3 separate regions of the Homo sapiens genome follow, and regions 2 and 3 are each linked to region 1. Evidence: fine-mapped expression QTL. A gene starts in region 1. Each other region holds a variant in brackets. All regions are shown on one strand. Distances are between the middles of the regions.

Region 1 (10,222 bases):
CTGACATACAATTCTCGATAAATGCTAGCTATTATTATTTCCTGAGAAACACAACCTAGAGAGTAATTTTTTTCTAGAGATTAAATTTAAGCAAAGTAACAAGGAAATAGTCTAGGCATTCACATATCGGCAGGGGGGTGGGGGGGGGGAACCTAAACCAAGTAAAGATTACACAGAGGGTTTTCTCTAATTAGGTGAATCAAATTCATAAGGCTGAGATTTTTTTTTGTAAGAGTTCTTTAAACAGAAATACAGTTAACTTTACTAACAACAATGAAGCAACACATAAAGTTCTGAAAAGGCAGTCAGGAGTCCCCGGAGTGTTAACAGAAAGAACACAGGACTTAAATACAGAACTCAGGTCCAAATAGCAGATCGAACCACCTGCCAGGTAGACGGCATCAAAAAGGTAATTTAAATTCTCTCATTCTGTTTTTTCACTTATAAAATTAGGTTAAAAAATAGCTGTCACAGAAAGCATGGCCAGCAGGTCCTCCACAGGACCTTTCCGTTCTGTGCCTAAAATTCTGAACTGTGTTTTACAATAAGCCTGAAAGTTCGTTCACCGCAATATAGTATTTGCAATCCAAAGTCAATATTTCAACACAAAATTGGCAGGCAGGAAAGGAGGGAGAGTCTTTCGCTAAGTCTAAGTAAGAGTCTGACTTCTCACTAGGAGCATGTCTGTTGTACTTACTTCAAACAGCATGCAAAGCATGACTCATCAAGGAATAAGAATTTCAATGAGTGCTTTTTGGTTAAGAAGCTATTGTGAATATTTCTGCCTTTGGAGATGGCTAAAGAAATAGCATTATTAAGCCGGTGCAGTGGCTCATGTCTGTAATCCCAGCACTCTGGGAGGATGAGGTGGGTGGATCACCTGAGGTCAGGAGTTCAACAACAGCCTGGCCAACATGGTGAAACTCTGTCTCTACTAAAAATACAAAATTTAGCTGGGCGTGGTAGTGGGCGCCTATAATCCCAGCTACTTGGGAGGCTGAGGCAGAAAATCACCTGAACCCAGGAGGCAGAAGGAGGTTGCAGTGAGCCAAGATCATGCCACTGCACTCCAGCCTGGGCGATGAGAGCAAAACTCCATCTCAAAAAAAAAAAAAGAAACAGCATTATTATTAAACAATACGCACAGAATTCATGGAAGAAACATGAACTTCCCACATATACCTTCCTTCATTTACCCAGCTTTTCCCCACTGCTCTTCAAACAAGATCATTCTTATCTGCACTAATTGCTGAATTGTGGCCACAAGATGAACATACTCCTCTTTCACTGACACCTACAAGATATTTAAGCTTACATTTTAAGATTGCTAAGAAGTTGAAGTCAGTTAGCAAAATTCCTTAATCTGCTCCAGATATGAATATATCCAAGACTTTGACCATAGGGCTATATTAACCTCTGCTATCATAATCAGTGGAACTAATTTACCAATATTTTATTTACCAGGGGAAAAAAAAAGACATAAAAGGGAAAAGGAAATTCACAATGCAGCTCTGTAACCAAGCTACGATATAACAAGGAGTTAATAAGGAGCGCCCTCATTTGGCTTGAATGATGGAGAAACTTGAGTAAAAACATGCATTTAAAAAAAACCTTTAAGGCTGGGCGCGGTGGCTCACACCTGTAATCCCAGCACTTTGGGAGGTTGAGGCGGGTGGATCACGAGGTCAGGAGATGGAGACCATCCTGGTCAACATGGTGAAACCCCATCTCTACTAAAAAGAGAAAAATTAACTGGGTGTGGTGGCATGTGCCTGTAGTCCCAGCTACTCGGGAGGCTGAGGCAGGAGAATAGCTTGAACCTGGGAGGTGGAGGTTGCAGTGAGCCGAGATCGTGCCACTGCACTCCAGCCCAGCGACAGGGCAAGACTCCATCTCAAAACAAACAAACAAACAAACAAAAAAACAAAAAGCAAAAAACACATTTAAAAAACGATCCCTTCCACCGCCCAGAAAAAAAAAAACCTTAGGATGATCATACAAGTGTTACAATGTTTTTTTAAAAAATGTTTGTGAATGCCTTTTAAAGAAAATGCTTTTCTCACCACTAATAGCAGGTTTGAGTTCTGTTATTTAGTTTTCAAGCCACCAATGGGAATCTATGTGCCCCAACTGTATTTTACAATGCTTTCCAATACAGACCAAAAAAGTGTGTAGATAAGGGTATCAATGTGAATGAAGCATTTCTTTTCAAATTCTTTTCAAAATAAGTATTCTCTTTTATGACCTGAATCTAGGTGATTCATATGTTGAGTTTTGCTGGACGATCCCTAAAAGTTTTGGGCTTAAGTTTCAAGTTTCCTAACTCTTAACAGCTTTCCTATCTAAGACGATCAAGTTTTACAGATGGCCACTTTTTTTCAGCCACCTTTCCCCTAATTTATATAATGAATGAAATGAGCAACCTGATTCAGGTTATAACTTTTTACTTAAACTAAGTGAGTAATTGTAATTTAGAGACCTCAGAGCTGAATGCATTCTCTAAAGCATAAAAAAAATTAGACAAATTACAGGTGCACAATTTGCATTCGGGGACCACAGAATTTTGAAATGTAAAAGCTCCCTGTTAAGGCCATACTTAGAGATGTTTATCTCAGGGTCCTCAACCTCAAGGACTTATCCTCCATGTGCAAATAAAGCTGAAGGTGTAACTTCCCAGGAGGCACCACTGGAAACTTGTAAGACCAAAAAGGCTTTTGAGAACCAAAATAACTGAAACTCTAAAGGGGGAATTTCAGATTGTGACAAATGGTAAAAGAGAGTGAGGTGGCAAGGGGACTCCTAATCAGTTCCATTCAAATCATCAATGTGCAGTTAATAACCTCTCCTTATTGGAGAAACCAATGTAATAACTTAAAAATACACTATTGTGATAATCGTAATTTTAAAACAGAAATAGCCTAGGTTAAATTGAACCCCTCTTCCCGATCCTACTGGTCATTCAGCATGTTTTAAATTCAAGGTTGCCCTTTAGGAAAGGAGGTCACTTAAGGACAGTTTATCTCAATGAAACATCTTGTATACTAATTCGAAACTATTTCAAAAGGGGGAAAATGGAGATTAGAAAAGTAACATACTACTTGAGATGTTACCATATTATTTCTCAGGGCCACAATTATTTACACTATTTTTTTGAAAACGCAGTAATTTCTAAAGCATTAATTATGTAGCAATATTCGTCACTTTAACAAAACACATTTGAAAAGTCCTATCCTACTGACTCAGGCCAAATCTAATTTTAAAACTGAACCTAGACATAAAAATACTCACCAATTAGACTAAGAAGGGAGAAATAAAAAAAATTATTGGTTCAGAGAAATGAGACTGAATTAAGGAAAAACTTTTAAATAAAGTGTTCATCAAAAAAATACATAGAAGTTCCAAGGCTAGTGTTTTCCTAGGAGAATATTAAGAAGTTGGTGGTTTCTCTCTACCTAACTGGGATTTTAGAAACTGCCACACTAGCTAGTTATGAGAATGAAGATTAAAGAAATTTCACATAAAGAGTGAAGGACACACAATCTTTTAAGTAACAATAATGAAATCAATAATTATAATTAATAATAAAAAAAAAAGCCTGACAGTCCACCTCTTACTGACTTCCCCCTCAAAAAAAAAAAACTGGGAGTGTTCTGGGAATTGGAGAGATGTCATCAGCACAGAAAAAAAAACCACTTTCCTATATGTCATCCTGAAGCAGTGATTCTACATAAAAATAAGGGTAGTCTATTCTCTATGCAGTTATGAGTGTGGTACAACTCTCTAAAACGTCTATTAATACAAAATGAACGACCACACTTTAAAGCCACTCTACATTTTCGCAAACTACCCTACATATCTACGAGTAACTATTTGCAACTTAAACACCCTCCTATATACCTCTATACCTTCCTGCTTCCTTCAAGATACCATCACAGAATGAACGAATACAACTTAAATTAGTTTATTTTCCAGGGTGCTTCCTTTCCCCCACTCCATGAAACATAAGTACATTTTTTTAAGTCATATAAATGGACACCAAGCACCGGTAATTCAGTCTCTTTAAAACCTGCTTAAAAGTTCTAGTAAGATGTGCTCAGGTTGGAAACTAAAAACTACCTTATAAGGGTATAAAAGACTGAAAGCAGGAAGCGGCTTTGACAAAACTAAGGAAGTTGCAGCGCGCTTGCTCACTGGGGGACTTTTTTGAGGCTACAGAAGTAACACATGACATCTTTCTCCCTCGAATTAAAATGTGACTTGGTTCACCGGTTAAAACGCAGAGGGAGATGGAAATGACCAGGAGTCGAAAGGAGAAGGTGGGTGGTCAAATGAAAGCCCCACTGTAGGTTCCCATTTTCAGAGTCCGATTCTTCCCTTTCCCCACCCACACCCTGGGCAGAATGTTGTCACAGCGATCTTGTCAAACCTACCAGGAGCGCTTCTCTTTTCTAGCTCCCCTGCCAGGCCAGTCCCCGAGCTCGGCCCCTGGGTCCCCAAACCGACTGGCAAAAACGGGCGCGGAGGGAAAGGAAAGCCGGATGGGTCGGGCCCGGGGACCACCCCCAAGACGACCGTCCCCAGCGCCCTTTGGGCGGCGCTGCCCACCGTAGTGGGGGAAGGGCCGGGAGGGGTCGCGCGGAGAAAGCCGCTGGGAGGGTTGGGGGTTGAATCTCGGGCCCGCGCCCCCGCCCCAGTCCCAGGAGGGAGAAACGAGGGGACCCGCGAGGCCCTGGCTGCGGGCCCCACCCCTCGCTGGCCGGCGGGTCTAGGACTGACAGCCGGCGGCGGCACCTCGCCGCACCATTCATTTCCCGGCCTCCTCCCTCCCCCGCCATCTTCCTTCCTCCGCCTCAGTTTCCCCACCCCCGCCCGTAAGCCCCCTTACCCCGTGCCACAGTCCACCACACAGGCCGGCAGCCGTCCCGCCATCTTCCTCCTCGCCTGCTGCTGCTGCTGCCGCCGTCTGCTCCGTGCTGCTAGGGGCCAGAGATTGGCGGCGGGAGACAAGGGCTATCTGACCATCCACAGCTGGGCCGCCTTCACCGTCCGGGGGGTAGCCGGGAAGCCGAAGCAGTAGCAAGAAAGCAGCAGGCTCGGTCGGCGGCTATCACTTCCGCAACCCAGGCAGGCAGGCAGTCCCCGCCCTGCCCCGCCGCGGCCTCCTCCCCCTCTCTCTTCCCTCCTCCTCACTCCTGCCCCCACCCTACAACTTCTTCCCCTCACGCCGCCTTTCCCCGGGAAGCCAAGATGGCCGCCGGTGCCGACGCCCCGGCCAGGCCAGGCCCAGGCCCCCAGCGCTCCCCCTTCCGCTCCGAGCGGGAGGGGCTAGCGAGCATGCGCAATAAGGTACGTTCGCCTGCCTGGGCTCCGATCCTGAAGTTGGTGAAATCCACTGCGGGTTTTCCAGGAGTGTAGAGGCGGAGAAGTCTATCCGAGCTTCCAGTTCTGCTTCTGAAGCTGGAAGGGGCTTTTCGGTTGTAACCCTTGGGTTAGTTTCAGTTACTTCTTTGCTAGGTTGAGGAAAGGGTGGAAGCGCCTCCTGCAGCCACGAATATCCTCCAGTGCCTGAGAGAAAACGGCCTAATCGAAAACGTCCGCGGCATACATCCATTCTTAAAACTTGAGTGGCTGCTTTTCTGGGTGGAAAAGAGCGGTATCAGACAGGGTGAGCAGTCGGGGAACGGATGAACAAAGACTTGCACCGTGGCCCTGATGCCTTTGTTCCGAGTTCTATTCAGTTGTACTTGTGCGTTGTTACAGGACTTTAGAATGCAGCCCTGCCCCCCAACCCCCACCTCCCAGGGCCGACCTGTGCTCCTAGGAAGGCAAACCTCCCAGGAATATATTCTGCATAACTATACAAATAGGCCTTTATTCAAGGCTTTTGGATTATGACAAAGATTACCCTCAGGAGTAGTAAGATTCTACTAGCAGGATAATAGAAAGGATTAAGGCTCCCCTCCAAAGAAAATTTTTTTAAGTTAGAAACGGAGGCGAGCCGCAGTGGGTCATGCCTGTAATTTCAATGCTTTGGAAGGCCGAGGTGGGAGGATAGGATAGCTTGAGGCTAGGAGTTCGAGACCAGCCTGGGCAACATGGGGAGACCCCCCCCCATCCCTCCAAAAAAGAAAAGAAAACTGGAAAGCCTTAAAGAAACCTTTCAAACTTTAGTGTGTATCAGAATTACCTGAAAGGTTTGTTAAAACAGATTGCTGGGCCATACCCCCAGAATTCTCTGACTGGGCTATCGGAAATAATGCCTGAGAATGTGCATATCTAATAAGTTCCTAGTTCCACTTTAGGACCCTAGAAGGTTAGTATCTTTCCTCTCTACCAGGCTTATCTTAGGATGAACCGTTCGGGGTTTGCTGATGTGAAGCTAAAACAAAAATATTCTTTAAAAGGAGGGATGTCTTATTCAGTCCATAAGATCATCTAATGTATTAAGCTGGCTTGGGGGATGAATCGGGTGTTTCATTCATTCATTTGACAGGTAAGCATTGCTTACCTACTCTATTATGACGGGGTCTGTGCTGACTCCGAATATTCGGTGGGATGCAAAATAGTTAAGTGCTCTTGTAGAGTTTACAGATTAGCGGAAAACAGACAAATTGTGTTAAGAGCAATAGAAAGAAGAGAGCGGAGGACTCTGAGAAATGAAGGCGAGGAGTGGGAGAATGAGAGGAAGGTGGAAGGCAGGTAAGGAGTCTGACCAGCTGGTATTTAAAAGCTAAGATGGGGGGAAGAGTCTCCCAGGAGAGTGAACAGCAAGTGTCAAGGACCTGAGGCAGGAACAAGCTTGGCTTCTTCCACAAATTGAAAGAAGATCCATATGAAAGAGTCAGAGAAGATGCAATGGGAGATGAAGACTGAGAGATAAGGAAGAGTGAAACAGTGCAAGAATTTGTAGACTGCTCTAAGCATTTTAAAGTTTATCTTAAAAGCAGCTTGATAAATTAGATTTATGGTAATTAGTTTAAAAATAAAAATAAAGCAACTTGAAAGGATTTAGGCAAGAAAAAGTTGTGTCTGCTTTGTAGAGAATGGCTCCAGCAGAGTCCAGATTGAATCATACATTGTATGATATTCTGTGTTCCGGAGTTCGCAGATAGAAGTATGTGAGGGCCAGCATCCAAATGGAATCAGGTATGTGCAGAGGAGACTCACTAAAGGGCATCATCATCAATTAGTGCCCAGCATGTCTGCAGCTATTCACGAGAGAAGGCTTTTTTTAGAGGTTGTTTTCAGAGAAGTCAAACAACTGGTTGTCTCAGATTCGTTGTCGTTGGTTTCTCCACTACATTTTAGAAGATGCTAGATGGGGACTCTTTGCTGCCGCTTCTACTACCTGGTAATTAAAGTCTTTTGAGGAAGCATATGCTTGAAGATTGGCTCTGACAGAAAAGACAGATGTGGTTTAGTAGGGGTAGAATAAATGGTTGTTTCCAGCAGTTACAAGTAGTAAGTCAGGAGTGAAGAGATCCTACCAAAGAAGTTTCGAGAGCAGAGGTTAGTGCCCTCGGTCACTTGGGCAGCCCATGCCGGTGGCCCTCAAGGTAGCTGCCCACACTCTGGCCTTGCACAGTTGTCATGGAAGTAGTTAACTCAAGCAGGGTTGGAAACTAGTGCTTCGAGGTCTAGGCAGGTACTGTTATGAGTGAAGGGGGCCATGAGGAGGGTATGGCAATGTGAGAGCCCACAACCCAACAGAAGGCAACAGACAACTGTTGCCATGTGGAAATACAGCCCTGGTATTGCCAGAGCCTTTTTTCTTCCCCAAGAGAAATCTGAAATCTGCATTTTTATCTTTGGTAACTGTAATGGTTTGAATGTGTTCCCCAAAGTTCATGTGTGAGAAATATAATTTCCAGTGCAACAGTGCTGAGAGGTGGGAGCTTTAAGAGGTGATTAGGCCAGGAGGACACTGTCTTCATGAATGAATCACAGGACTGGGTGCCTGATAAAAAGGAGTTTGCCCCCGCTTCCCTCTCTCTCTTTTGCCCATGTGATGCCTTCCACCATGTTTTGACACAGCAGGGACGCCTTCACGAGATGATGGCCCTTTGATCTTGGACTTCCCAGCCTCTAAAACTATGAAAAATAATTTGTGTTCTCTATAAAGTACCCAGTCTCTGATATTCTGTAAGCAGCACAAACTAGGCTAAGATAGTAACTAATTTTTTTCTGCATGTCATATCTGACCTGTGGTCTGCCAGTTTGCATCTTTTGATTTCGGAAGCTACATGTGGTTCAGTAGTTTGCTGCCTTCAAATATGAAGCTCATGTCAGTGCTAAGTACTGTCTCTCATTTCATAGGCATGAGGAAACTGTCACAGTCTCACATAGTCAAGACTGTCCTGTGTTTGTACAGGCAGTAACTGTTAGAAGCATTTGGAAGCTTTCAGTGCTTGTTGGAAATGTCATTGGTGCTCATTCCTCATAATCTTGTCTACCCAAACACTTTGCTTGCTTAAGATCCCTTCTACTTCCTGCTTGCTGCATGCCAAATTGGTCAGCCTCTCTGCTACTGTGGTGGCCCAGCCTTCCTCAGCTGCACATAGCCTTCAGTCACACATCCGGCCAAAGCATTTCTGACCACCCTGTTTGCATATGCACCCACTCCCTGCTTACTCATCTCCAAACACAGAAGCAAAGGATGTCAGAGACAGTTCATCCTTCATTTCATATTTGTCCCTAATAGCACCTCAATTTCCTTTCAGTTCAGGTCAACCCGGTCCTTGGTTCTTACCCATTTCCAAACCTGTTCCGAAACTTTCAAGCATTTGTGAGTCTTGCAGTATCCTTCTCCTGTGGCTCAAGTTAGCCACAGCAAGTTCCCATTACTTGCATCAAATTTGAGAAGCCTTAGTGGTACAGAAGCCCATAGAGTTTAAGTGAGTTTTCCCAATATCTTTTTCTTTTTTTTTTTGAGATGGAATCTTGCTCTGTCGCCCAGGCTGGAGTGCAGTGTAGTGCGATCTCGGCTCACTGCAAGCTCTGCCTCCTGGGTTCATGCCATTCTCCTACCTCAGCCTCCTGAGTAGCTGGGACTACAGGCGCCCGCCACCATACCCGGCTAATTTTTTTTTTTTTTTTTTGTATTTTTTGTAGAGACGGGGTTTCACTGTGTTAGCCAGGATGGTCTCAATCTCCTGACCTCGTGATCTGCCCGCCTCGGCCTCCCAAAGTGCTGGGATTACAGGTGTGAGCCACCACTCCCGGCCCCCAATATGTTAAAGAAACTAAGGAACAGAAGTCCAAGTCAAAATCCAGTTCTTACGCCTTTTGGGGGGCTCTTTAATTGTAACGACAAATTAGCAAATTGTCTTTGGATCTTAAAAAGTGTCCAGGAAATTTATGTCACTCAATTTCCATTATTTTAAGATGAGAAATAGTATTTTAAAAATCAACTTAGGTACGTACTACAGGGCTGACTGTTTGCAAATTGGCAGATGAATCAGATTCACAGAGAGCCTTAATTCAGAGCAGGTAAGTTGTAAAAGTACCCCAAGCAGCCTAGTGGTCAGAGGGGAGGGACTGTGAAAACTGTCTTCTCTCTTCTCAAGTTGTGTGATCTTAGCAACTAACTTCTTATGTAGAGAGAGCACTGATTTTAGACTCAAGAGACTTGAATTGAGTATGAACTCTTTCACTTACTCTGTTTCTTCATCTATAAAATTCACAGGAATATTTAACCTATAGGGTTGTTGTAAAGCTTGAATTTGGTAAGAAGCCTATTATAAATTACAGAGTGACCTTATTATGGACAGATCAAGAGGAATATGGTTTAATTATAAAGTAATCACTGACTTAGTACTTAAACATACAAAAGGAAACACACACTGGTCCTCCTCTTCACAGATGTTATCTTGGGGCCCATGTGCCTACTCTTTTAATGCTACCATTGTGCAAAATATTTTTAGAAGCTCTTCTTTAGACTTGCCTTCAAAGCCTACAGCACATTGTTTTAAACATCTTCACTGGTGGCAGATCTTGCCCTCTGTGAGTAGATTTCATTTTGAGGATTAGCCAAAAGTCATTTCTTCAGAGCCAAGTCCAGTAAACAAATGGCTTATCAACTAGGGTTGTTTTTTATCAAAAGTTTTATGTGACTATAAGTAAAACTGGTTTTCTTATGTGACTTATAAACTGCCTCTAGATGAAGTTCTAGATTATTTTATTCAGTGGCTACATCCCTGGGGGCTATAGACTGAATGTCTAT
Region 2 (10,222 bases), 30 kb after region 1:
GCCCGCAGACCCTGAACCAGTGATGGATGAGAGACATACACTGACACAGATATTTTGCCTGTCAGTCTGGCTAAGGGGCTCTGCTCTGCATCTGGAGCATCACCTCAATAAGCTAGCAAAGTTCACATTTATTTAATACAGATTAAATGACAAAGGTCTCGAGTAAACACCACTAGAGGGTAATTAACATTGCTCACCCCCTGAGTAGAGAGCAATTATGCACCTGAGGTTGATCAAAGTTTGGTTTTAGGACCACATGAGTAAGCAAGCTATTTAGATAAACTTCCTCACATTCCCTTGTTATTTTCATTTTTGCTATCAGCTAAAGGTAGAGAGGATTAGGCTGCTTTCAGCCAAATCTGTTACTGAAGCAATGTAAACCCTCTCCAGCCTTACAAGAAGGTTTGTGTCTATTTCTTATAACTATCTTTAAAATTTTTTCCACCAGCCTGACTGAACTCCCACAAGCCTGGTCAACATAGCAAGACTTCATCTCTACTAAAAAAAATTAAAAATTAGCCAGGTGTGGTGGCCCATATCTATAGTCTCAGCTACTCAGAAGGCTCAGGCAGGAGGATTGCCAGAGCCCAGGAGTTCAAGGCTGCAGTGAACCATGATCACAGCACTGCACTCCAGCCTGGGTGACAGAGCAAGACCCTGCCTCTAAAAAAAAAAAAAAAAAAAAACTGTGATGAACATTGATTAATTGTAGGTACACATATATTTTTTATTATCATCTATGCTTTTTCTCATTTATAAATGTCTCCAGATCTTTTTAAATTCTGTGAGCAGAACTTCATAGCTATTAGGTTAGGCTAAAACATAATTAATGCATAAGAGACAGAACCCAGTTCCATTGAATCCAAAGGTAAATTCTAAATATCCCACATTTATCTTTTTTCTTTTAAAAATTTATTTGCTAATTTTTCTTAGCGTTCCCTTCCCCCATTTATGCTAAGAATACCCAATGTACTTATACCAGCATCATTTATAATAGTAAGCAATTAGGATGATAGGCACACTATCAAATGATATTTGGAATGGTAAGTCTAATGAATGAAATTGTGTCAATAAAAATGTTAAATTTTAAGTGTGACATACAAAATTGTATATTATATATATATATATATATATTTTTTTTTTTTTTTTTTTTTTTTTTGAGACAGAGTCTCGCTCTGTCACCCAGGCTGGAGTGCAGTGGCACGATCTCGGCTCACTGCAACTTCCACTTCCCGAGTTCAAGTGATTTTCCTGCCTCAGCCTCCCGAGTAGCTGGGATTACAGGTGTGCACCACCATGTCCAGCTAATTTTTGTATTTTTGGTAGAGATAGGGTCTCACCATGTTGCCCAGGCTGGTCTCAAACTCCTGAGCACAAGCTATCCACCCGCCTCAGCTTCCCAAAATGCTATAATTACAGGAGTGAGCCATCATGCCCAGCCTAATATACAATGTTTATGGATGCCAAAGTATGTGTCAAAAGTATAAAATCAAGTGGTAGAATGGTAAATGCTGAGTTAATAAGAGCGATTTTGATATAATGATGAATATTGAGGTAGAAGAGAAATACAATCAATAGTACATGGGGTCTCAGTGGACTGACAATGCTTTCTCTTTTTAAAGGGAAGCAAATATGTGATAATGTTAAGATTTGAAAAAGCTGAATGATGGATGGATGTGTGTTCCTATATTAGTTTCTTGCTTATGTGCGTGAACCACTTCACAGTTTTTTGAATGTCATTTGTTAAAACTTCATATTCCATTGTGCTGGTCCTTTGAACTTTTTCACTTAGTCTATTGAAATCTAGAAAACAACATGCAGACAGAATTTTGGAAGTAGAAGGGAAGAAGATCCACACAAAGTGGGGACTTGAGAGATACAAGTTACAGTTAGCAGAACAGGAAGCAAATATTCATATATTAAGAAAATTACAAAGAGGAATTCAAGTAAATAAGTTACCTAAAATTACAATAGAGGAACTAAAAATAATGAGACATCCATATTGGGAGGGAGGAGGGTGTAAGTGAACTAAGTTCTCATCTATCAGAATAGGAAGGAAGTCCACAGATAAAGCCTGTCTGTCTGATAAATAAAGAAGTGGTGATATAACTGTATTATTTAGAGATAGGGAAGTAACCACCCAGAAGAATTTTTGAAACTGTAGCCGTTAAGAAGTCAGACTTGTTCTAGGGCTTGAGTGGAAGGTAACGGGGTGGGTTGGGGGTGGGAAGGACTGGCAAAGCTTTCTTACCTCTTACAATAAGCTCTTCAGCATTGTTGACTTTTTTGTAAATATGTGCGTGTACTGCCTTGGTCAAAAAATTTTTTTGAGGATAACACAATAGTAAAACCATCAGACCCCAGAAAATGTTCCTTTCTTCAATAATCTGACCTAGTGCTGTTTCACTTTTTTTTTTTTCTTGGAGATGGAGTTTCGCTCTTGTTGCCCAGGCTGGAGTGCAATGGCACGATCTTGGCTCACTGCAACCTCCACCTCCTGGGTTCAAGGGATTCTCCTGCCACAGCCTCCCGAGTAGCTGGGATTACAGGCGCCCACCACCATGCCTGGCTAATTTTTTGTATTTTTAGTAGAGATGAGGTTTCACCATATTGGCCAGGCTGGTCTCGAACTCCTGACCTCAGGTGATCCACCTGCCTTGGCTCCCAAAGTGCTAGGATTACAGGCGTGAACCACCGCTCCTGGCCCTATTTACTTTTTCTTCTTTTTTTTTTTTTTTTTACTAAGAAAGTGAAAGCATCAAAGAATCCCTATTCACTTCTTGACCTGTGTTGTATACTTGCTTATAAATTGTGTACATTTTCATCTTTTAATTGGTATCCTGGAATGACCCTTTTTCTTTCTGTTTTTCTTCCTTTTATATTTTGCCCTCTGCAAACATTTTAGAGTTGATTTTCTGTACAAAAGGTTGAAGACTGTTCACTTATGGAAAGCTTGTTTCTGATAGACACTTAAATGAAACAAAGAAGGCTTCTATAATTCAAATGGGTTTAAAACATGCCTATGACAAACAGAGACAGAAAGTAGATTTTGGCTGAGGGAGTGGGGGTGAACAGTAACTGCTAATGGGTTGCCGTCATGTTTTCTGGGGTGGGGGATGAAAACGTTTTGGAATTAAAAGAGTGGTGATGCTTACACATCTTTGTGAATATACTAAAATCCACTAAAGTGTACACTCTAAAGGAGTGAATTTTATGGCATGTGAAATATCTTAGCAAAAAAATGCCTATGAAAAATATTGCAAGGGAATAAGCAAAAATGATAGTCACTGTGTTGTACTCAGGGGATGTTTTTTCTATTTTCTATTTCCCTAAAGTTTTGGTAATGCGATAAAAGTTTCATAATTTAAGAAATATTCTATTTATTTTATTTTTGAGACAGGGTCTCCCTCGGTTGCCCATGCTGGAGTACAGTGGTGCGATCACTGCAGCCTCAACCTCCTGGGTTCGAGTGACTCTCCCACTTCAACCTCCTGAGCAGCTGGGACCACAGGTGCATGGCACCACGCCTGGTTAATTTTTTATTTTTCATAGAGACAGGTTCTCACTGTGTTGCTCAGGCTGGTCTTGAACACCTGGGCTCAAGCAATTGTCCCACCTCAGCCTCCCAAAATGCTGGGATTACAGGCGTGAGCCGCTGTGACAGGCATAAGAAATATTTTAAAGTAACATCATTAGCCTGGATGTATGGTACCATCTTCAATCGTCCAAGTTTTCCTCTTAGTTCCATAACACTTTTTATTTTCTCCTGCACTCTAATGCACATAATTGTTCATACTGTAATCTGTTTTATTTATAGTTTTGGCTTTGGTGTTACTCTTTTTTAAAATATTGTTTTGAGACATGTTCTCTTTTTGTCACCCAGATAAGAGTGCAGTGGTGCAGTCATGGCTCACTGCAGCGTCTGCCTCCTGGACTCAAAGAATCCTCCTACCTCAGCCTCCCAAGTAGCTAGGACCACAGGTATGTACCACCACACCCAGTTATTATTATTATTTTTTTTCACAGAGACAGGATCTCACTATGTTGCCCAGGCTGGTCTCCAACTCCTAGGCTCAAGCGATCTACCTGCCTCAACCTCCCAAAGTGCTGGGATTACAGGCATGTGCCACTGGGCCTAGCCTGGCATTACTCTTACAAAGGATACACCACGGTAAGGTTATAAAAAACATTTCTATGAATTTGTGAATTTTGTTCCTAGTAGTTTTATACTTTGCTTCTTTTTTTGAGACAGAGTCTCGCTCTGTCACCCAGGCTGCAGTGCAGTGGTGCAATCTCAGCTCACTGCAACCTCCACCTCCCAAGTTCAAGTGATTCTCATTCCTCAGCCTCCTGAGTAGTAGCTGGGATTACAGGTGTGTGCCACCATGCCCGGCTAATTTTTGTATGTTTAGTAGAGATGGGGTTTTGCCTTGTTTGCCAGGCTGGTCTCGAACTCCTGGCCTCAAGAAATCCACCCACCTTGGCCTCCCAAGGTGCTGGGATTACATACATGAGCCACCGTGCCCGACTATACTTTGCTTTTTTATTAAAACATGTTCAAGTCCTTGATCTATCTGGAATTTAGCTTTGTATATGGCTTGAAAGGGAATTAATATTATTTATCTTAATCAATGGCCTGATGTCATAAACAATTCATTTTATATTATATACTGATGTTGTTTAAATAAGTGTGAGTGTGAGTGTG[AGTGTGT/T]GTGTATGTGTGTATACAAAGTCTATCTCTACATTTTCTAGTCTGTTCCTTTGACTTATTGCCTGTTCCTAAACCAGTGCCATGCTGTTCGGTTTTATGTCTAGTAGAACAAATTCCCTCTCCTTGCAGTATCTTTTATAACACAAAAATCTCACAAATAAATAAATAAAACTTGCATCCAAATATGCTAAATGACTTGCTCGTATATCATTTAGAGATACAATTCAGAGAATAATCTCAGTTTTCTGAGTTCAGTCATTTATTTGTTCTATTTAACAGATTTTTATTGAACATCTACTATATAACAGAGTCTGTTCCAGCTTCTAAGGATCCAGTAGTGAAGGAAATACAAAAATCTATGCCCTCATGGAGCAAACACATATTCAACATTATTATTCATTTTTAAATAGCTACATCTCTGCTAAATTTTCCAGTTTTTGAAAAATAAATTTTAGTTATTAATTCAGCATAATTAGAAGAGTTGAAATTTTACACTTCATATCTCACAGTTTATTTTTCTTACACATATATTTTTTATTTTATTTATTTATTTTGAGATGAGTCTCGCTCTGTTGCTCAGGCTGGAGTGCAGTGGTACAATCTCAGCTCACTGAAAACTCCACCTCCTGGGTTCAAACAATTCTCCTGCCTCAGCCTCCTGAGTAGCTGGGACTACAGGCGCACGCCACCACACACAGCTAATTTTTGTACGTTTCGTAGAGAAAGGGTTTCACCATGTTGGCCAGGCTAGTCTTGAACTCTTGACCTCAGGTGATCCACCTGTCTCAGCCTCCCAAAGTGCTGGGATTATAGGCATGAGCCACCGTCCCTGGCCACATTTTTTTTTTTAAACTCTACAGTTTCACTTCTCTTTTTTTTATGCAAAGTAGTCTCTTCTCTACATCCATGGTTGATTTCTAAAAACCCCTTTGCAGGAGAATTCCCTGTCAAGAGCGTAAGACTTTATGAAGCAAATTAGGAAAATTGAGGCCACTATTAAACTACAAAGAATACATATTTTCCTTAGCCATTTGTTCAAATAGGACAATACATCTGGCACATATTATGTATCTAAAATTAGTAATAAATTCCCATTCACCACTTCTTGCTTTGGGATAACTTTCTAGAACTTCTCTTTTATGAAGTTTCAGCAAGACACATGATTATTTTATAACACGTGATATTCATGATGAGTCTTTTTTCCCCTTTTAGTTCTGGTTGCTACATTTCTTATTTTATGACTTAAAGTTAAATTACTTACACTCTCTACACCCGAAATGATCCCAAGGGAACTGAGTAACTTGAGAGAAGTTAAATATAATTACATGTTTGGACTCTAGAGTTATACAGATCTGCTTCAGACTTAGCTCCCCTACAGAAGATGTGACTTGGACAAGCAAGGTAACCTCTCTAAGTTAGGTTTCTCCATCCATAAATTGGTAAGAATAATATGTACCTGCCTCATAGGATTGTTGAGAAAATTAAGTGAGGTACAATGTGTAAAATTAATATCTCAGTGCTTGGCACATAATCCATGTTAAATAAGTGTTAGCCAATGTTATTATTGAGATGTTTGTTAAGACCATTTCACTACAAAGAACAGCGGTTCATCTGGGTGATGGGAGCAGGGGTATCGTGACGGTATTTATGGAAATAAGGACTTTAAGGACCTTCTGGCATATCAAGAAAAGCTGTCGAGCTGGGCCTCTTGGACTCTGGAAGTCACTCAGGAACTAGAAGCATCCAGTGGAAGAGTCACCAATCTGAGTCATCTTCTTGCTGCCTTGGCAAGTTCAGGGATCCCATAAATGCAGTGACTCAGCATCCCTCCAACTGTACTGCTACCATTCCCATTTCTACTAATTTTTCAACTCTCCTATAAATACCGTTTGATTTTGGCTTACCTATAGCTTCTGCTTGTTCATAACTGCTCACTCCTCCTTTCTGATAACTCAAAACTTCAACTTATTCACAATTTGTCAGTTCCACATGAAATTTCTAGGCAATAATGTCTGTTTGACTCAGTAGTATCCCTATTGAAGCAGAGGTTCTATATGCTAAACCTCCTCGTGGGCCATAAACCCATAGAAAAACTGATGGCCTTTGGATCATGAGCACATTCCTGATTCTAGTCAGCTGAGCTGGGAGAACTGGGGGCTGAGGGGTTCTGGAAGCGGGGCAGAGAACGTGGCATAGAACATGGCCACCTTCTTAGTAGGACCTGTAGGCTCTGCAGTTACCCCCAGAAGTGGGCTGTGTGGTGACTGGCTTGTCTGTAAACTACACTTTGGGTAAATTATATCTCATCTATTCAACATAGCCAAAAAGAAATGTCTCACTCCTCCTCCATTGACAGTTTTTATTACTTTGGTTGGTTGATTTTAAAGGGCAGTAACCTAACTTGAACTAACTTAGACACAAAGAGGAATTTATTGGCTCACAGGATCCAGGAAAGGTTTAAAAAGTTGATGTCCAAGTCCAGTCTTCCCATATAACTTTGTTTCTTATTTTATTTTTATTTTTATTTTTTGAGATGGAGTCTTGCTCTGTCGCCCAGGCTGGAGTGCAGTGGCATGATCTCGGCTCACTGCAACCTCCGCCTCCCGGGTTCAAATGATTCTCAGCCTTATGAGTAGCTGGGATTACAGGCACATGCCACCACGCCCAGCTAATTTTTGTATTTTTAGTAGAGATGGGGTTTTACCATGTCGGTCAGGCTGGTCTCGAACTCCCGACCTCATGATCTGCCCGCCTCAGCCTCCCAAAGTGCTGGGATTACAGGCGTGAGCCACCGTGCCCAGCCTGTTTCTTATCTTAAAATTAAACCCTATTTCCTTTTTTTTCTGATCCCTGTAAACAGTGACTCCAAGCTCGAATGATCTAATGCTATCTCAGTGACCTGTTTCTCGCTTATATAACACTTGGCCCATATGTGTATGGTTCGTTTTTAGCTCCTCCAGTTTTCCTTCAAACTCCTTTTACTCCCTCACATTCTTCATGTTTTACTTTCTTTAGTCTTGGGATTCATGTTACTTCCCCTTCCTGTATTCTGTCTTAAGTAGCTGAGGTATCTCCATAGTGCTTCTCACTTCCTTTTAGTTTCATTCCATTCACTTCCCTAAAGTTCTCTCCTGCTTCTTCCTTGCCTTTTTCTCATTGAGCCCATGAAGTTCTCTCCACTGTCTCAAGACAAAGGTATCCCTGTTGGAGTAAGTAATCTTGATTTTCTTTCCTCAGCAAAAGTTCATGTTGGGGATCCCTGGTGCACTTTTTCTTATCCTCTTATTGCTATCTTCACTATTTCCTGAAATTCATCTTCTTGTTTTTATCCAGTCTCTTCTATTGCTCTCTTTATCTCCTCTTTCCCTTATAGAATCAGTTAATTCTCTATATTCAAAAGAGTAAATGTTACCAGGTATTTCCCATATTGCTTTGCTAGGGCTGCTATAATGGAGTATACCACAGACTGGGTGGCTTGCACAACAGAAGTTGTTCTCACAATTCTGAAGGCTATAATCCAAGGCCAATGTGTCCACAAGGTTCATCTCTTTTGAGGCCTCTCTTTGGCTTGTACATGGCCATCTTCACCCTGTATCCTCATAGGGTCTTTCCTCTCTGTGTGTCTGTCTTAATTTATGCTTTTCATGAGGACACCAGTCATATTAGATAGGGCCCGCCCTAATGACTTCATTTTAACCTAATTATCCCTTTATAGAACCTGTCTTTGTTTGTGCTGCTATAACAGAATACCACAGACTGGATAATTTGTTAAAAAAAAACAAAACAAAAAAAACCAGAAACTTATTTTTAGCAGTCTGGAGACTGGGCCAAGATCAAGGCACAGGCAGGTTCATTTTCTGGTAAGGGTCCTATCTCTGCTTCCAAGATGGTGCCTTGAATGCCATGACCTCCAGAGGGGAGGAATGCTGTGTCCTCACATGGCAGAAGGCAGAAGGACAAAAAGGGACAAACTTCCTTCATCAGGCAGAAGGCAGAAGGACAAAAAGGGACAAACTCCCTTCATCAGGCAGAAGGCAGCAGGACAAAAAGGGACAAACTTCCTTCATCAAGCCCTTTTATGAGGGCACCTCATTCCATTCATGAGGAAGGAGCCCTCATGGCCTAAACACCTCTTAAAAGCCCCACATCTTAATACGATAACATTGGCAACACTTAAATTTTTGAAGAGACAAATTCAAACCATAGCAGATTTTATCTTAAAATATACAAAATACAGTCAGTCACATTTGGCATACTAGGGGTTAGGACTTCAACATCTAAATTTGGGGGTGGGGGCAATATTCAGCCCATAGCATTGCCTTTAAAATCCAGATCAAAAATTTACTTCTTACCAGGCACAAAGGCACACACCTACCACCCCAGGCTACTTAGGAGGCTGAGGCAGGAGGACTGCTTGAGCCTAGGAGTTCACCTTCAGCCTGAGCAACACAGTGAGACTGTGTCTCTTTAAAAAAAAATTTTATTTGAATTTCTTTTCTTCTCATCCAGGAAGTTTCCTGATCCAAAGAGCTCACAGTGATTTGGTCCTCGTAGAACTTGTATCGAAGTTTTTATTCTTATCATTCATTGGTAATCAGCCTGCTGTTTTGCCATATTAAATTATTATGTGTGTTTTGTGTTGTTAATTTCTTATGTTCTATTTTATCTACCAAATAAGATGAGATGAAGATGAACCACACCTTCCACTTTCTGAATCTTCATAGTATGTGATATAGCACTTTGCTTGTTGTATGTCCTCAGTATGTAATTTTAATAATTTAGTCAATGTTCTACCACTTCAGATTCTCCTAAGTTCAAACCACATGAAAGCTGTCCACCCATTAATTGTTTTCAGTCAATTCCTAAAAAACGTGTTCTTTCAAAAAGGGTCCTATTCAGTCACATTAATAAGAATTCAGTTTGGTGAAATCAGAGCAGTTGTGGATAGTGTTTGAGGCTGACCCTATTTAGATCAAAACCAGCAGAAATTAGTGGTAAGGCTTCGATGGGGTCAGTTCAGGAAGAGGTTTTTAATAAGATAACAGTCAGAGGGAAGGTGAGGGAGTCCATTCAGTTGGCAAGAGGAATTTTGAGCACAGGACATCCCCGAGCTGCAAGTCAGGCAGAGGGACACTGCAGATGCTACTCAAGTCTGTGGCAGAGGAAGAAGCATCCGCTCAGAGGACAGCACCCTGGGTGAGTCTGAGGGAGGATGCATCCGCTCAGAGGACAGTGCCCCGGGTGAGTCTGAGAGAGAAACACTGCCTCATTACTCAGTGGGTGCAGGAGCCCTTTTTACTGACTGCTGCATTGTCAGGATCCATGGTTGATCTGTGGACAAGATTTTATCTTCCTTAGTGGAGAAAAACCCTCCTGACCCAATGAGTGTGGCCTTGCAGAGGTCCTCAGTTTTCACTTCACCAGAGACTGCTTCCACCACTGGTGCCTCAATCTCCTACCACTGGGTCTTGAAACATCTCTCCAATATTCCTAAATGGTCCTAAAAGAACA
Region 3 (10,222 bases), 34 kb before region 1:
CAAATCACCAGTATATGCAACATAATTCAATCTCCAGATTATGCTAAGTAAAAGTGTTTCACCAAAATGCACATATTGCATGATTCCATTATTTGACACTCAAACATGGGCAAAGCTAATCTCAGATGAAAAAGAAACAGTGGTTGTCACTAGGGCACGGGGGCAGAGATTAATTACAAAAGGGCATGAGAAAACTTTCCACGCTGATAGTAATTTCTCTATATCTTGGTAAGAGTTTAGGTTACACAGATGTATGTAACTGACAAAGATTGGACAAATCACATCATGCATCCTGCAGGTCAAATACAGCCCACCACCTGTTTTGGTAAAAAAAAAAAATTTATTGGAACACAGACATACCTATGAATTTAAGTATTGTCTATGGCTGCTAACATGCTACAACAGCACAGCTGAGTAGCTGTGACAGGGACCATTGTATAAAAAGTTCTCATTAAGTTTCCTCAGGGACTATAACCCCTGCAAAGCCAAAAATATTTGCTATCTGCTCCCTTAGAAAGTTTGCCAAACCCTGGTCAAAATCCACTGAATGGTGCAGACCGGTGATTTTATGATATGTAAATTTTATATGAAAAGAATAACCATACACAAATGATAGCTCTAGTTGATGAAATACGTGCTAAAGTATTTAGGGGTCAAATGACTCCCATTTGCAACTCACTTTGAAGTGATTTAAAAACTAAAATGAAGTGAAAGATGGATAGACGTCATGAAGCAATTATAGCCAAATGTTAAGGTTAATCATCGAATCTAGATTGTGGGTGTATGAGTGTCCATAGTATGGTTCTTTCAACTTTATAGTCCATCACAATCACCGAAAGACACAGAATATTGATTTAACCAAAAATTGTGATGTAACTACAATGCGAGGAGTGGGAAAGGATAGGTATTTTGTGTTGAGGGAGAGAAAAGGTAAAAAGGGAAATTCTCATTTTTCCTATTAGGAAGTTGGTAAATAATGTATAATATTCTTAAAGACAGAAGAAATAAAAAAAAAATGTTAAATAAAAGAAACATGTTAAAAGATTACTAGCAGGGCAAACTTTGTTAAAATTGAAAATGTTTGCCTCCGGGGAATATGAACCAAAGGTTGGGAGAGGTAAGAAAGGAAAGTGTTATTTTGTTGTTTTAAATCTTATAAAGTCATTTGATTTTTTAAGTTATGAACATGCACTGCTTTAATAAAAAGATGTTTAATAAAAAGTTAGATTATATTGTATTTTTGTTATGAAGAAATACCAATGATATAATAATCAGACTATTGTTTTTTAAGCAAAAAAGTGCCACAGGTTTCCAACATTTTTCTGAACATTACTTACTGTTTCTATCATAAAGATTAGACATTAACTACCAAAAGCACTTCTTAAGTGTTTAACATGTGGTGCTTTGACATACTACTATTCTCCTGTAGCCATAACTAGATGGTCTTAAAGATGATACAGCTTTATTACAAAGTCATTTAGACATATGACAATTTAATAACCAAAGTATACCAAAGAAGTATGATGAAAATGTTCTCATTAAGTGTATTCAAAAATTTCCTCAGTGAAATTATAACTTGTAACTTACCAAAAGAAAATAATGGTCTTCAGGTTCTGCCCTTAAATATTTAAAGATCACTTGCTCCATAAACCTTTCCATTAAGTCCCAATCTTCAACTATACCATGGCGGATTGGCCACTATTAAAACAAAAAGGGAAATACAAATTAAATCTTATTAATATAAAAAACAAATAAAAATACAAAAAAGGAAATATCAGATCATTAGTGGATATTAGATGAGGATATATTCATAGGTGTGATACTATAGAACATCCTTAAAAGATGTGTACTTAAGGATTTAAAGATAAATTAGTTCAATAACGCATTGTCAGATGGATGGTTCAATAAAAACAAAGTGAATATGTCAAAATGTTAAAAACTGTTAAATCTACATGGAAGACCATTGTACTAGTCTTTCTAGATTTTAAAAGTTTTGTAATAAAAGGATAAGTTAGCCTACAAAAATTAAGCCTAAAAAACTATACTTTATCACAATTTCCTTAATTTTTAATGCATTAGGCCATTAACAAGTATTTGTTGTATGCCGAATATAAAAAGTGCACCTGTAAGTACATACCTAGAATAATTGTAAGAATCAAGCACATAAAATGTTATAAGAAAAGTTTTATAAATGTTTAAGAGTCATGCTTCCAAAACTGTGTGCTAAGATACCTACTATGATTTGGATGTGGTGTGTTCCCACCAAAACTCATGTTAAAATTTAATTCCCAGTGTTATAGTATCGAGAGGTGGTAGGGCCTTTAAGAGGTCATCAGGTCATTAGAGGAATTAATGCAGTTCTCAGCAGGACTGAGTTAATTCTCCAGAGGGTTGAAGGCAGGCTGTTACAAAGTGAAGTTGTCCCTTGTATTTTGTCCCTTTCCTCTTCCATTCCCCAACATGTTATGAAGCAGCATGAGGTCCTTACCAGAGGTTGATCAGATGTGGCCAACTCATCTTGGACTTCCTCACCTCCAGAACCACAAGCCAAAATAAACCTCTTTTCTTTATAAATTACTCAGTCTCAAGTATTCATTATAGCAACAGAAAATGAACTGAGACAGCACCCCAGTGTACTACCATAAATTCACAAGGGCGCCGCAAAGTTATTTTAAATTTTCCAGGGAAATATAGTGTTACTCAACATCAGTTGGACACTGCGTGATCTACAAGTCACAGTAATTCAGTTTCAACAATAAATCAAACTATTATATATTCCTTTCAATGACATTATTTCTTACAGAAGTTGGTTTGTCAGCAGTTGCTGGCATAAAAACCAAGTTATCACATAAAATAACATCGATATAAAACAAGAAATCAGGGTGGCAATGTCCCATCTGATTCCAGGTTTGAGAAGCTGAGCGATGCCTAAGCATCCTAACAGAAATGTGATTACTCAGCAGTGAAATAACGTTTCCAATTTAAGTGTCTTATTTTTTTCAAGTGGCTACTAAGTTGCCTGGACCTAGGTATTTAATAAACAGAACTATCAGACATTTCTTTCGATCTAGGTGGCACAGTGAAAAACGTTACTGAGACCCTAACGGCACTGAGAAAGTTTGTGAACCTCTGCAACAGAATATAATTCCATGAACATAATACACATTCAATACCTAAAGTTAAACAAATTAATGAACAAAGAAATAAATACCTTGCAGTATCAATCCCTAACATCTACTTCTTACTCTAGTTTCCACACTACTTTTTAAGGCATTATACTTATAAAAGGACTTCTACTCCCCAGTTTGCTTTAAGGAAGGAAAAAATTGCAGTTTACTTTATCATTCAATTTTTAACATTATTAGAAGTTTACAAATTCAAATGTTTTAAGTATTATTTATTCATCAATTATTACTGTGTACCTACTGTAAGCCACTGGCACAAATGCTAAGGACACAGACATCCAGCATACAAAAAACTCAGTCTAGCAAAAGAAATATATACGAACAAATATTACACTACAGGTTTTTAAAAAAAATAAAGTTCCGACTGGGCGTGGTGGCTCATGCCTGTAATCCCAGCACTTTGGGAGGCCAAGGCAGGCAGATCACCTGAGGTCAGGAGTTTGAGACCAGCCTGGCCAACATGGTGAAACCCCGTCTCCACTAAAAATACAAAAATTAGCCAGGCGTGGTGGTGCATGCCTATAATCCCAGCTACTCGGGAGGCTGAGACAAGAGAATCACTTGAACCCAGGAGGCGGAGGTTGCAGTGAGCCAAGATCACTCCATTGCACTCCAGCCTGGGCGATAGAGTAAGACTCTGTCTCCAAAAAAAAAAAAAAAAAAGGTGGCACGATGGCTCACGCCTGTAATCCCAGCACTTTGGGAGGTTGAGGTGGGTGGATCATTTGAGGTCAGGAGTTCAAGACCAGCCTGGCCAATATGGTGAAGCCCCATCTCCACTGAAAATACAAAAATCAGTCAGGCATGGTGGCAGGCACCTATAATCCCAGCTACTGGGGAGGCTGAGGCAGGAGAATCTCTTGAACCCAGGAGTCAGAGGTTGCAGTAGGCCAAGATCACATCACTCCACTCCAGCCTGGGCAACAGAGTAACACTCTGTCAAATAAATAAATAAATAAATAAATAAATAGTTCCTTGAATAAGATGACCACCTTGTTTTGTGAGAGAAAAGGTTTCGCTGAGGAGGTCATATCTAAGCCGGGTCTTAACTCAGTTCTGCTTTCTGGCTTTTTTTTTGGCAGGGGAATGAGAGGTATGGAGGAACTTGTGGAGAACAGAAAAAGATGTATAGAAAGACAAACACTGCATGGTATACAAAAACAAAACTGAAGTTATCAATGAGAAATTTATGTGCCAAAAGATTTGAAGGTGCGTAGAGAGATATACCAGTTCTAGATCAAAGGGACTAGATTCTCAAAAATTTTCCTTTTATTTAGGTTTTATTCTATAAGAAATAAAACAGCAGAGAAATTTTTAAGCAGGGGAATAAGAACAGCTTTAATTTTTAGGAAGACTATTATAGCAGCATTGGGAAAGCTCAAATGAAGCTTAACAGAACCAAGTGAGAACAAGAGTACCAATAGTGGTATGGACGACAAGGGGCCACATTGAAGATTTCTCAGTCAATAAGAATAAGAAAGGGCTGGGCATGGTGGCTCATACCTATAATCCCAGCACTTTGGGAGGCCAAGGTGAGAGGATGGCTTGAGCCCAGGAGTTTGAGACCAGCCTAGGCAACGTAGTGAGACCCTGTCTCTACAAAAAAAAAAAAAATTTTTAATTAGCCAGGTGTGGTGGCACACACCTGTAGTCCCCGCTACTCAGGAGGCTGAGGTGGAAGAATCACTTGAGCCCAGAGGGTCAAAGTGATTGTGGAGGGTCTTGCAGTGAGCCAAGATCTCACCACTGCATTCCAACATGGGCAACAGGGCAAGACACCTGTCTCAAAAAAAAAAAAAAAAAGAGAAAAAAGTCAGAAGATGCCAACAGGTTTCCAGCTTTGAAGTTAGGATGGACCAGATCCATTAATCAAAACATAAAAATTGTGTTTTGTCTGATCTTGGAATAAACAAGAGTGGAGTATATATAATACGTTTTGTTTTAGATATACTAAAACTCAAGAGCCAGGAAATAGGTAGGTGAAGATGTAGTCAAGGAACTGAAAGTAGAGATCTGGTCTGTGGTTGCAGACAAAGGAATGGAGGAGATCACCTAGAGAAAGTCTTTAATGAAAGAATAAAACATTGAGTCACCCCATTTTATGAGAAGAGAAAAAAAAAAAAAAGGAGAACTGAAAGCAGTGCCTAGAGAAACCAACGTTTGAGTAGTGGGTAAAGGAGAAATCAGTGACAATAGAAACAACAAATAAAAACAAACAAAACAGGCCGGGCACAGTGGCTCATGCCTGTAATCCCAGCACTTTGGGAGGCCGAGGCAGGCAGATCACGAGGTCAGGAGATTGAGACCATCCTGGCTAACACGGTGAAACCCCATCTCTACTAAAAATATAAAAAATTAGCCGGGCACGGTGGTGGGCGCCTGTAGTCCCAACTACTTGGGAGGCTGAGGCAGGAGAATGGCATGAACCCGAAGTCGAGGCTGCAGTGAGCTGAGATCGCGCCACTGCACTCTAGCCTGGGCGACAGAGCCAGGCTCCGTCTCAAAAA[C/A]AAACAAACAAACAAACAAACAAACAAACAAATATTCCATGTTAGGAAGATAACCATTAGAGTAATCCTGCAAAAGAAAGACAAATCAAGAAGGATGAAAACTGTTACATATAATTGGATTTAACAAAGAGCATATCAAATATCTTGAGACTCACTAAGAAGTGTCGTTTTAAAAGGAAAGAGAAAAATAGCTAAATTGCTGAGGACAGAAGGTAGGAATAAAGATTGAGAGAAGTTTTGTTCTGGTTTGTTAGTAGCACTTAGAAGACTTAAAAATGCGTTTAAAATGAGTGGACAGAATCAGTGGAAAGGAACTCTGGCCTCTCGACTGACTGACTTCATCACTTTCAGTGGTATCTCTTTTCCATTTTGGCCACAGTATAGATCTTATATCATCATCACTATCACCTCTCAATCGCTGAAATGCAGGTATACCCTTCTCTGATCACAACCTCTTATTATTCTAGCATACTCAACCACCTCAAGAGATCTCTTCTGAACACCAATTAAGACTTTTGGTCCACTGGTTGCTTTAATTATTCCCTAGCCATCAATATACACAGTCTAGATTTTGACCCATCACCTTTATTTCACATGTTCTTTTTTCATCCTGTCTACCAAAATCCAACCCAGCATATATCCCTAACATAAACTTGCCTATATCCAGAATGCTGATTATACCGCAGAAGCATTTGCACTAGGGTGCTAAAGACTAAGAATTCATAGTCATTATTCTCAAATGGACCTAACCTTGCCTGGCAAGCCTTTACTCTTCTACTCTGTTCCTCTTTACTCTTCACAATGACGAGTGTCAATGCCGCCCCTACCGCTAAGATTTCACCTTCTCCCCACATCCATGACCAGCAGATGATGCCACCACATATTTCGCAGAAGCAGCAGAAGCCAACAGTCAGGAATTCAAATCTGTAAAATGGATTCCATACTTAGCCTTTTTTCTCATTTACTTCCATTATAATGTAAGATATTCCGCATGTCAATTCAGTCATCTGTGTTCTGGATCTCATCCCTCCAGCTTTTTCAGAGACCTTGATTATACCTTATCTTTCCTGTTACTTTAATCTCTAATAGTTCTTTCATATTAGCATTCAGACATGTCTTCCATCTTAACGTTGAAATGTGTCTCTTCATCTCTCTCTCCCTCCCAATCACAATTGAAACTCAATGAACAGTACTCTTACTGTTACTTTTTTCCTGGCCTATCACTCAAAAGCCTACTTTCATCTAGCCCAACTACTCTTCTAAAACTATTCTCATTCAGGTTACAAATCACCACCTTGTAGCGAAAGACAGCAAATTATCTATGGGCTCTAGCTCATCTCAGCACCATTCTACAGTGTTTACCTCTACATATCTACCCATGCATTCTCAGTCTCTTTCGCAGACTTTTCCTCCTCTACTCAAACCTAACTGGCACACTGCTCTGTCTTAGTTCTCTTCCCCTGTGATATGTTCCCCTAGGTAATGTCAACCCGTCTAAGGTAACTGACACTTTCTGAATCTCTGTCTCCAGCTCTGCCTTGTTTCTTACCTCCAAAATCCACATATTTGACTCTAACAAAATCTCAGACGTCTCACAAGTACCTCAAACACAATGTGTTCAAAATTAAACTTATTTTCTCCTCTCTACACTACCCAGTCAAAAGTGTTTCTCCTTATGAAACAAGACCTCTAGCTCTCACCTTATACAAAAATCAACTCAAAATGAATTAAAGATTTAAATCTAAGACCCAAAACTATAAAAGTACTAGAAGAAAACTTAGGGGAAACCTCTCACAACATTGGTACGGGAAAAGATTTTACAAATAAGACCTCAGAAGCACAGGCAACAAAAGCAAAAATAGACAAATGGGATTATATTAAATTAAAATGCTTCTGTGAGGAAAACCATCAACAGAGGGAAAATACAAGTTATGGAATGGGTCAAAATGCCCGCAAACTGTACATCTGACAGAGGATTAACATCCAGAATATATAAGGAATTCAATTCAACAGCAAGAAAAAAAAAAAAAAACACTGATTTTTTTAAAAGGGCAAATAATCTAAATAGACATTTCTCAAAAGAAGTCACATCAACGGCCAACAAATACATGAAAAAAACGTCCAACATGACTAATCATCAGGAAAATGCAAATCAAAACCAGAAAGAAATACCGTCTCACCATAGTTAGAATGGCTATTACCCAAAAGACAAAAAAAATCACAAATGCTGGCAAGGATGTGCAGAAAAGGGAACTCATATATACTGTGGAGGGAATGTTAATAGGTAAAGCCACTATAAAGCATAGTACAGAGGCTCCTCAAAAAACCACAAATAGAACTACCATATGATCCAGCCATCCTACTATTGGGTATATACCCAAAGGAAAATAAATTACTATATCAAAGATACCTGCACCCTCATGTTTATTGCAGTACTCTTCACAATAGCCAAAATATGAAATTAACCTAAGTGTCCATACGGATATGTGTAGTATATATGCACAATACTATTCAACCATAAAAAAAGAGTGAAATCCTGTCATTCCTGGCAACACAGATGAGCCCAAAGGACATTAAGTGAAATAAGCCAGGGACTAAAAGATAAAAAATTGCATGTTCTCATTCATGTGCAAAAGCTAAAAAAATTGACTTCATGTAAGTAGAGAGTAGAAAAGTGGTTACTAGAGGCTGGAAAGGGTAGGGGAAAGAAGGGAATAGGGAGAGCTTGAATAAAGGATACAAAATTACAGCTGGATAGCAAGAATAAGTTCTAGTGTTCTATAGCACTATATGATGACTACAGTTAATTTATTATATATTTTCAGATAGTTAGAACAGAGAATTCTGAATATTCTCAACACAAAAAAATAAGTGTTTGAGGTGAATATGCTACTTACATTGACTTGATCACCACACACTGTACATATCAAAATATCACTACATACTCCATAAATATGTACAATTATTATATGTCAAGTAAAATTTTTTTAAAAGCCTGGCACAGTGGCTCATGCCTGTAATCCCACACTTTGAGAGAGGCCAACATGGGAGGGTCACTTGAGCCCAGGAGTTTGAGACGAGCATGGGCAACAGAAGGAGACCCTGTCTCTATAAAAAATAAAATAAAAGGCCGGACGCAGTGGCTCACACCTGTAATCCCAGCACTTTGGGAGGCCAAGGTGGGCAGATCACCTGAAGTCAGGAGTTCAAGGCCAGGCTGGCCAAATGGTGAAACCCCATCTCTACTAAAAACACAAAAATTAGTCCGGCGTGGTGGCACATGCCTGTAATCCCAGCTACTCAGGAGGCTGAAGCAGGAGAATCGCCTGAACCCAGGAGGTGGAGGATGCAGTGAGGTGAGATCACGCCACTGCACTCCAGCCTGGGAGACAGAGCAAGATTCCATCTCAAAAATAAAAATAAAAATAAAATAAATTAGCGAAGCATGGTGGCACACGCCTGTGGTTCCAGCTACTCAGGAGACTGAAGTGTGAAAATCTCTTGAGTCCAGAAGTTTGAGGCTGCAGTGAGTGAGCTGTGATTGTGCCACTGCACTGCAACCTAGGTGACAAAGTTGAGACCTTGTCTTAAAAATAAAATAAAATAATTTTTAGATGTTTTTCCTTTAACATTCTCAATTTCAGCAGATAAGGGATAAATAAGACTATCTCGGAGCTGGGAATTACCCTCAATTGATACATCTAGCTTATCACCAATATCCCATTCATCACGCCCTGTTACTCTTTAATTATCCACTTTTTCCTTGTCAAAACAAACAAACAAAAACCTCCCATAAATCTAATCAGACTTACATTTAACTACCATTTACAACAAAAAAAAGTAAATATAGGAAGTAGGGTACCATGTTAAATGACCCAATGAGTATGTAATAATCAGAATCCCTAGAATATAGGAAATTTTACAAGACATCTCAAGTTTTTTTCCATAAATAAATGGCAAGAACAAAAAAGAAAAGAAACATAACACACAGGGAAAATAACCTATAGATAAAAAGAGACTTAAGAGATTTATCAACTAAATCCAATGAGTAGACCACATTTTAATGTTGATTCAAACAGAATAACCAATATAGTAAATAATCAAAGAAATTTAAGCAATGACTAGATATCAGATAAAGAAACTGCATACTAAATTAAGGTGTCATATTTACCTTTTTTAAAAGCCTTCATATTTAAGAGTTAAGTATTTGTTAAGTGAAATAGTATGTACAATTTACTTTAAAATAATTGCAGGTTGAGGGTGGAAAGATTATATAGACAAAATGAGATTGTCCATAGATTATAACCACCAAAGTTGTATGATAGGCACATGGGGGTTCATTATATTATTTTCTGTTCTTTGACATGTGAAGTTTTCCACAATAAAAGTTAAATGTCTGTGTGTGTGATTGCACTTACACAATTTCCATTTCTATCCCCACTGCCGTCACTAATATCTCTTGCTTAGACTATAGCAATAGTCAATTATCTGGTTTTCCCAGAATCATGCTTACCTTACCCAAATAATTTC

The links.
Region 2: its variant is fine-mapped to the expression of ACTR3 in whole blood (TOPMed, PIP above 0.99).
Region 3: its variant is fine-mapped to the expression of ACTR3 in whole blood (INTERVAL, PIP 0.94).

The regions. Positions count from the first base shown.
Region 1 is chr2:113,884,987-113,895,208 of GRCh38, reverse strand. ACTR3 (actin related protein 3) reads right to left here and starts at 5,120. Exons shown (of 12, transcript NM_005721.5): 1 at 4,886-5,120. The coding sequence starts at 4,929. It overlaps ACTR3-AS1 (ACTR3 antisense RNA 1), which reads left to right and starts at 4,217. Exons shown (of 5, transcript NR_110174.1): 1 at 4,217-4,316. It overlaps LOC124906071 (a long non-coding RNA gene), which reads left to right and starts at 5,442. Exons shown (of 3, transcript XR_007087205.1): 1 at 5,442-7,146. RefSeq lists enhancers at 4,180-4,359, 4,410-4,459, 4,542-5,197, 5,230-5,319, 5,440-5,749 and 2 more and silencers at 4,590-4,849, 5,090-5,149.
Region 2 is chr2:113,855,223-113,865,444 of GRCh38, reverse strand. It overlaps ACTR3-AS1 (ACTR3 antisense RNA 1), which reads left to right. Exons shown (of 5, transcript NR_110174.1): 2 at 3,884-3,981. Among named protein-coding and RNA genes, the nearest start is that of ACTR3, 30 kb to the left of the region's middle. RefSeq lists a silencer at 3,397-3,446. The variant AGTGTGT/T (reference allele first, on the strand shown) is at 4,706.
Region 3 is chr2:113,918,821-113,929,042 of GRCh38, reverse strand. It overlaps ACTR3 (actin related protein 3), which reads right to left. Exons shown (of 12, transcript NM_005721.5): 4 at 1,588-1,698. Among named protein-coding and RNA genes, the nearest start is that of ACTR3-AS1, 33 kb to the right of the region's middle. The variant C/A (reference allele first, on the strand shown) is at 5,693.